Regions from separate parts of the Homo sapiens genome. Here all the other regions are linked to region 1. Evidence: fine-mapped expression QTL. A gene starts in region 1. Each other region holds a variant in brackets. All regions are shown on one strand. Distances are between the middles of the regions.

What was found. PIP is the estimated chance that this variant, and not a neighbour inherited with it, causes the effect. A credible set is the group of variants that fine-mapping cannot tell apart.
Region 2: its variant is the best candidate, but not a certain one, in a credible set for the expression of NEUROD6 in cerebellar hemisphere (GTEx, PIP 0.89).
Region 3: its variant is the best candidate, but not a certain one, in a credible set for the expression of NEUROD6 in cerebellum (GTEx, PIP 0.90).

What each region holds. Positions count from the first base shown.
Region 1 is chr7:31,339,310-31,342,082 of GRCh38, forward strand. It overlaps NEUROD6 (neuronal differentiation 6), which reads right to left and starts at 1,417. Exons shown (of 2, transcript NM_022728.4): 1 at 1,284-1,417.
Region 2 is chr7:31,308,361-31,311,133 of GRCh38, forward strand. No RefSeq gene overlaps it. Among named protein-coding and RNA genes, the nearest start is that of NEUROD6, 31 kb to the right of the region's middle. The variant C/T (reference allele first, on the strand shown) is at 1,191.
Region 3 is chr7:31,211,394-31,214,166 of GRCh38, forward strand. No RefSeq gene overlaps it. Among named protein-coding and RNA genes, the nearest start is that of NEUROD6, 130 kb to the right of the region's middle. The variant C/CTAAAAGAT (reference allele first, on the strand shown) is at 1,502.

The DNA.
Region 1 (2,773 bases):
TATTTAAAGAGTTTTCATTTTTAAAGTTTATACACTTAAAACATATTTAATTATTTAATCATAAGATTACAAAAACACGTGAAAAAGACTGATTCTGGGCCTGATTTTTTAACATTAAATATAATTTTGAGTTTGTGAAGATAAGTAATTATGAAGACATTGATGCATTCAATAGGATTATTTATATGAGCAAATTATCAAAAGAAAATAAAAATGAAACATATAATTATTGTGATATCATTACCATCTACATTTCTCTTTGCCTTTAAACTGGATTTTAATACCCCCAAAAAAGATTGTGGAATTCAAGCAAATGCAAAACATGAAATTGCAATGCAGAATTTCATTAATTCCAATTCCCCTGAGCACAAAATGAGAAGATAAACCAGTTTTTAAAATGGACTATCTCTCCATTAGCTGACAAATTTGTGTTCTTTTTTTAAAACAAACAAACAAACAAACAAAACCTTAACTTTATTTGCTGTATCACACAACTGTGAATTTAGATAAGTGGGTGTGGGAATATACAAATTTAAAGAAAAGATTATAATCAGAGTCAATTTTTCAACTGATTTTTTCTGATCAGTAAAGAATTATGTAAAAGGGCACTATTTTCCCAGGCTTCAAAAAGAAAAGGGGATTAGGCTAATTTGGAATAAACTCTATAAATAAATTTAAAACATAAAAATCACTAGCAATTTCTTTTAATTAAAAAAAATAGAGACTGATTTTATTTACATTTAAATTTTTTCCAAATAGAATTGTCTGTTTACTGCTGTTCAAATCATCCTGGACAAAAACCACTCTCGTAGTGTTTTTGTTCTACGAGCCATAGAAGTCTCCCTCTAGCTAATATCTGACAGGAACGGTCCAAGGATTCTGACTGCAATTGTGCACGTGTGTTCAGAATCCCAAATGAAAGGGGAAAATAATTTGTGTTTCAAATGCATTTTGGTTTTTGTCTGGTGAAGCAGCAAGTATTTTCATCTAAAGTCTTCAAACAAATAGGCACATTAAAGCAGAGACTTTTCAATTTAACAATCTCCAGCCCCCTCAACACACACATATACACACGAACACATACACAAACTCTTAGTAATGTCCACATACTTGCAGTGTTACATAATAGCAGTGAAAGTATGTGATAATTACATCATAAGAATGAAATATGATAAGTTATAGATGGCAAAGAGCATATAAATACTATAAGACAGTGACACTGTATCTTTAAATACTTGCATGCAAAGCCAGCATCAATTGAAGTATATCTTTATTTATATTACCTTAGGTTTTAATTTCATTCAATAATCAGTTTTCATTTTGGGTCTTCCAAATCTTTTCAGGCTGAGTGTCGCATCGTCTCCTGGAGTCTCTAGATCTGTGTATATCTGCACTATCTCATTGATCTCTAAAAAGTGACATTGATGCCAACTGCCAGAGCTGGTACCCATGCCATCTGCTAGTGACGTCACAGGGCAGAGAGAGCCATGTGATCCTCTCTCTTGGGACCTTCATTCTGCACTGATCATCTGGCATCCCTGTAAGTGGGTACCAGCCTTCATGCATCAACACAGAAGGTTAGACTGATAGGAAAAAAATCTGCACCAGCATTTCACGTACAGTAGGTGCATTTCTCCTCGAACTGCTTCGGTTTCACTGGCAATCTGTAGAAATAGCTGTGTTAGTGTTCAGTTTCGCCCTGCCAAAGGTGCAAGTATTAGGTGATCGTTAATATTCCATTCATTTACAAGGTGGGCTTTTGTGTGAGCAAGAGGTTTTTTTTGTTGTTGATGATGTTGTTTTGTAAAGATCACCATCCCATTTGTGCACCTGGGTACCCAGGGAAAGAAAGCCGTGAAAAGGAGCTGGAAACTGGTCTTAAGACGTTTAACCAAACTAAGATTTGTGTAAGTGAACAGGGGTCAAAAAAGGTCTCCTTTGCTTGTTTTGTTTCACAGCGTGTAACTTATGAGTGTGTGTCTCTGTGTTCTCTTATTAACATGTAAGACTTCTGTGCTTCTTAGGCATTTGGAATAAAAGAACAGCTTCTCCATCTGGGGTCTGTGAAAGACATCCTCAAATACTCCCCTTCCTACACTTGCTGGTATCTTTCACCAACTTTTGCAGAGACACTGCAAGTCCGTTGTTAAGGATTTCAAACTACATACTTTGTCCTCTGCAGAAAGTCACTAACTTCACTCTTTTATTGTCCCTTATCTCTTCCCAGCGTTAACTTGCTTGTTCCCTCTCATTTCATTTCAGACACAATAAACATAAAAATTATCACTTAGGTGTTTGTCTTCCTCTCCCTGACATTCTGCTGAGTATTTTAATCAAAGATTAGCTTTCCTGTTTTTGTTTTTTTTTCTTTTTTTTTGACTTTCAGATTTTTTTCTTTCTCTTAAAAATCTTGTCCTCACATTTTTCTCTAGACCAACATCAATTTAAATATCTTCTTGTTCTTGTATCAGTGTCCAGTTGTTTTTCCCTGTCAGGTGTATTTCAGATTTATCTTTTTTCCCCGCTCCACACTTTTGGTTTCTTCTTAACAAAAGCAGGGTGGAAACAGTTAAGCAAAGCTGGCAAAGCCTTATAGATAATACGAACTGTGGAGGCAGAGACAAACTCCACCTTCCTCCTGTTTTCTCTTCTCCCGTGCCCCCACCCCTATAAAGGACATTTGATTTCAGGATTGCCTGCCAGTAAAGTAAAAAGTGCACTTAAAAAAAATAAGTAAAAGTTTTAAAATAAACAAATAAACGCAACCTTTGTT
Region 2 (2,773 bases), 31 kb before region 1:
TATTACCCCGCTGCACCAGCCATGTACTGCTGAGGTAGGCAAAGCAGCTTGGAATGTCCCTGGCCATTAATCAGAAGTCTGATATATTTTCTTGTTTAACTCCTTCAAGAACCTGGCCGCAGCCATAGTGCCCTTAACTGTTCCCCTGACTGAATGTTCTCTAACTTGATGACGCCTGGTACAAGGAGATTCGGAAGTTTCAGACAAAGCTTTTGTTTTTCATCTAAGAACTTGAATAAACCTATACAAGTTGGGATTTTTTTCTAGGTCCCTACACCCACATACATTTTCACTTGGCCATTTCCTACAGGATTGACTCTCCTAGCCAGCCATTTTGTGAACGAGGTGTAAAAAGGTTGCTCCCTCTTCCCTTAATCTGGCCTTTAGGAGTGAACCTGGTTGGATCCACACACAATGGTGGGGTGTGGGTGGCTTTCCATGCCATCATGGTATCATCCACACCCATCACACAGGCCAGCCTGCTCACACAGCGGCAGTCTGGCAGCCCTCAGCCACTTGTCCACACATTCACGAATGAAACCACTAAACATATGGCTGTAGCCAGTACATTCGAGAAACATCAGCTTGGGCTTACAGATTGAAAAGCCTTAAATACCTTAAAAAAATTTTTTTTATACTAAAATTGGTTTTAGTATAACATTCTTAAGCTGCACGTGTCTCTACTTTTTCAACCTTCTGATGTGATGCAGAATTTAGTGTGGAAGCTATTACATTCCTTCTCAATTTAATTTCCATTATACACATGGCAAACGTCACACAGCCTAACAGTGGGATGTATATATATATTTATGTATTTTTATTCCATATATAGGGAATTTAAAATATAAATATTTTATGCTTATATTTTAAATTGCGACGGTAAAGACTAAAATCTTTTCTGAGAAATGTATGAACAATATGAAGTCATGAAAATAATCATTGAAGATTAGTAATACCCAAATGAGGATACTTCTCAAACCTTGAAATGACTCAATTTGCTGAAACCGAAGGGGCCAGAGAATTTTAGAATACAGAGAGAAAGCATGTGAAAGGGGGAAAAATCTTCCTGTGGTACAATTAACTATAAAGCCAGCATCCTACATTTACAAAATAGATTTTTTAAATGATGCATCCATGTTGCTTATACTTTTTGGATTTATAAAAATGCAGTTGCTGCCAGCTCTGAAGCA[C/T]GTGCTTCTGTTAAAACTACGGGGGGCTACAAAGGTAGCAGCAGTTCAGTTTGACTTCTTCTCTGGATTGTGCCACATTCAAAGCATGAGATACTCATTATCTTACAAAAGCAGAGAAACCAGCTCTGTGACTGGGGGAGGCGAAACTTGAGCAGCTGCCCTATTAGAAGCATTTTCTTTTTTGTACGTTATAATATCAAGAGAACTGTGCCTAGCACCATACACTCCATTTTACATAACAGGTTTCCTGCAAATGATCAAACTCATTGGTACACTCTAAAAGATAATTTTATCCCAGCCCCATGGTTCCTCCTGCAGGCTGCTCTCTGATTACCCAACAAATTATAGGTATTACTCTAAATATCGTGTTCTGTCTGTTCATGTACATTTTTACATTCTTCTGCTAGTAAAACTGAAGATCATATTTAATATGAGGCTGTCCCAGAATTTGAGATATTTAAAAATAAAGTCAGAGTGAGCCAAAGGAAGAAAACAATAGGGATAAAGAAGGACAAATGGTCCCCAAATCTGTTCACTGGTGACTATGGCTCAAATCAATATGATTTAAACTTCTTTTGGGATAATAAATAATTCACATTCCTGAATCACTTCTCTATATGCAAAGTAGAAATGGGAAGCAAATGCCAAAAATGTCCCCAAAAAGAATAATCTCCGAATAACCCTGTTTTCTGAACTTTATTCTTCAAATTCAGACAATGCATCATCAACCTCAGAAATAGGAGTCGAGCCAAACAAGCTGCAATCTAATATGGAAATGTGGTCCTGGCCCCGGTACTGTGTCATTCTTCTGAATGGGATCACCTGCACCCATCCCTCCTAGGAGAAAATTTCAAACAGAGTTAGCTCCTTAAACCTTCTAATTAAAATGAGAAATCCCCAGGCTTCCATGACTCAGCCTCAGAAAAAGATTATTAGGAATTTAATAGGGAAAATATAGCAGCTCAGACCATCTGTGACCCAGTGCTCTGTGAGAATTTAAAGAAAACTGGAGGGAGGCAGCCCACACTCCAATGCACGCTCGAGGAGTACTTTGTAGGAGCTGCAATAAATCAACATAGTTAGAGTACAGCCTTTTTCAGATTTAATTACTGTTACATAATTATTAGCAAAGCATTCTCCTCTGAAACTGTAAAACTCATTACATCAAAAATCCCCAAGCTCCTGATGGAATTTATGAACTAGTTACTTTCTTTCTAGCTCTGGGAAAATAGTGGAATAGAGTCCAGATTTGTCTCCAGCTTTTCAGAAGCAGAGAGGGATTTTTTTCCCTCCTGTTTTGTGTCATTTCAGTAGGTTTCTGAACTGAGTTTGCTATGGACCATTCTCTTAGACATTTATCCATATTCTCACCTAAATACTCGTTTAAATGATTATGTTTCCTTTCAGTGGGAATGGTATTAAGCAAGTAAGTTTCAAAGTGTGTCAGCAAGAAGCTGACTAATTTTCAACAGGGTGAAAGATCAATCCACTTGAGGTGTCTTTGAGTTTTTGCGGGTTCAACCAGGGTCAAAAAAGTCCCAGCGAGTAGTGGGGATTGTTTTGGAAGGACAGATGTTATCATG
Region 3 (2,773 bases), 130 kb before region 1:
CTGCAGTGAGCGAAGATCATACCACTGCCCTCCAGCCTGGACAACAAAGTGAAACCCTGTCTCAAATAAATAAATAAATAAATAAATAAATAAATAAATAAATAAAAGAAACCACCAAAAATACAGAAATTGACCAGGCTTTGGGTCAGTTATTTGGGTCATAGATAAAAGTGTACAAAATAACCATGGCTTATATTAAGGGTGAGAATAACTGGCTTAGAATATTGCCAGACATATAGTAAATGTTCTATTAAGGTTACCTATTATTAGTAATACTCACTCCCCATACTAAAAGTGTAAACTTCAGTAATATTTCCTTCAGAATCCACATTTCATAGAGATTTTAAATTTTATCTGAACAATTACATTTTCTCTCTGACCATTTGTGCCCAAAAGGTGATCACTGTCATGAATTTGGTGGGCATATGTATCTGATGATGTTTCCATAACATTAGTATTAATTTGTGTATACATACACAGTTTTATTGAAAACTTACCTAATCCTATCACATTACACATATTTGCCTCAAAGCACTGTCATTTTCCACAACATCGTGGAAAGTCTGTCTGTGAAGCACATATAACTAGTTAGAATCTAGTTTACCCGATGCATGCTGCTATCTGGGGATGAACTTAATTCTGTCAATGTCTTATTATAACCTTCCTGTGAAAATTCTAGTGCCTCTTTCTATTCACACAGAAGAAAGTTTCCATATGATAGATGCATAAAAGATAGTTGTTCGTTTGTAAAATTCATGAATGTCCAATATTACTGTTAGTTGTCTGCATTTGTTTTCCCAATTTTTGAAAAAAAATCAGATACAGTAAACTACCTGAAACTGCTAGAATCAGGAATATCCCTGAAGTCTGTCTAGTAATAGTAGTAGTCATTCCATCATAGCTCCCATGAAATTCTCATCTTTTATAGGTAATAATATATTCATATCTCAGATTTCTGAAGTACTGTAAAATTAATTACTGCTTATGTAAAACCCTACAAACCGCAATATTCATGCCTAAAGACCCCTATAAGCCACTAGTTCCTTCAGCTAATCTACAGATGAGTTCACTGAGTCTGAAGAGGAGGATCAATAACCTGCCTCTTTTGGTTCATCTGGTACCAAAGCAGATGTGAAAAGAAAAACGTTCAGTGGGTTCTGGTGGACAGGAGAGATCCGTAGCACAGGAGTCAGGAGTCCAAGATCTGAGTCCCAATTCTTTTATTCCCTGCATCCTTAGCACTTAATAGATATTCCATCATGGTGAAAATCAAAAACATATAGTTAAGATTTCCCAAGCACAGTAAGTGAAATGTTTGCCTATTGCCTCTCAATTACACACACACACATGCATGTGTGTGTGTGTGTGTGTGTGTGTGTGTGTATGTGGGGGTGTATTTGTGTGTGTTCAGTGAATTTTGAAACAATGGGCCAGGAACTGTTTTAAGTGCTTTACTTGTATTATCTCATCGTATCCTCCCAACAATTTTAGGAGGGAGATA[C/CTAAAAGAT]TAAAAGATTTTGTGGGAGATACAGCACAATAAACTAAGGGGGAAAATTACTCTCATATTGAAAACTATATTAACACTTGCTTTAGTATTTTGACATAAAGTGGCTCTTTGGAAGCAGAATTTTGTCAGGACCAGTCAATTACCTGCTTATACTTTCAGATTCATTTATTCATTCAAAAACACTTCCTGACTGGCTAATATTTGTCAAGTTCTGTTCTCAGTCATGGGGTACACCCATGGATAAGGATGGCCTCCTCTTTTGAGATGCTTTTCAGTAGAGAGAGAACTGAATTCAACCACGTCCCATCACACTCCCAGTCTTGGTACAAAGCAGGCAAAGGAACCTGGATGAATTCAACCTGGATTCAGGAAAAGATAGAATAACTTAACATTTTTCTAGCCTGAAGGTTGAATTGTTAGTTTGATTGTCGTTGATGTCATGGCACTTGGATTGTGCTGCTTTGTCCTCATTTATTTAACCATGGAATTTTGCTTCCCTGATCTCTAACTCTAATCAAATTCTTGCCTTCCTGACCCACTCAGAGGTCCAGAAAAATATCTCCATCATTTAAAACTTTTCTTTAAATGAGATTATTTTTAATAGGAGCAAATTATCTCTGAGAAAGAAATAATATCATCATTTACCAATGTCTATTATACCACTTCCCTATTCTCTGAAAAGTGCACACAATTTTTTAAACAGTCACTTGGTAGCAGTAAATGCTATTTAGTCAGCCTTGTAGACCAAGGACGATTGGGGCTAGCACTATGGAAATATTTCTCATGTTTTCCCCTTTTATGAAGAGAGAGAAAGAAATTATTTCTTATGTATCAGTGAGAGTCTCTCCTGTACTCTAGATTAATATGTTTTAGTACTCAGCCAGCATCAAAGTGCTGTGATGCATCATATTGATCATCAAATATCAGTCCCCAGGAAGAGTTTCACTAGAAACACTTGTTAGGTGTGTTGTGTGCATTATATAACATTTATGCAAACCACAGCTTCCATACAGTACCAAACTTATCCAGGGAGAAGAAATCACATTTCAGCAGAGAACAGGTTTTCCATCTGATTTGTGCCCAGAACATGTAAAAAACATAGCAGGTTGCATGCTGCATTGACTAAGGAACATACATATGCATTTAAATCACTTGTGTTTTACTTTTTTATAATGCATTGGTGAATTGTATTCCTTTTGCATTTGTAATTAGAAGGCGGAACAGATGTGACGGTTTCGTTTAAAGTGATATGTCCATTAAAATAACCTATAC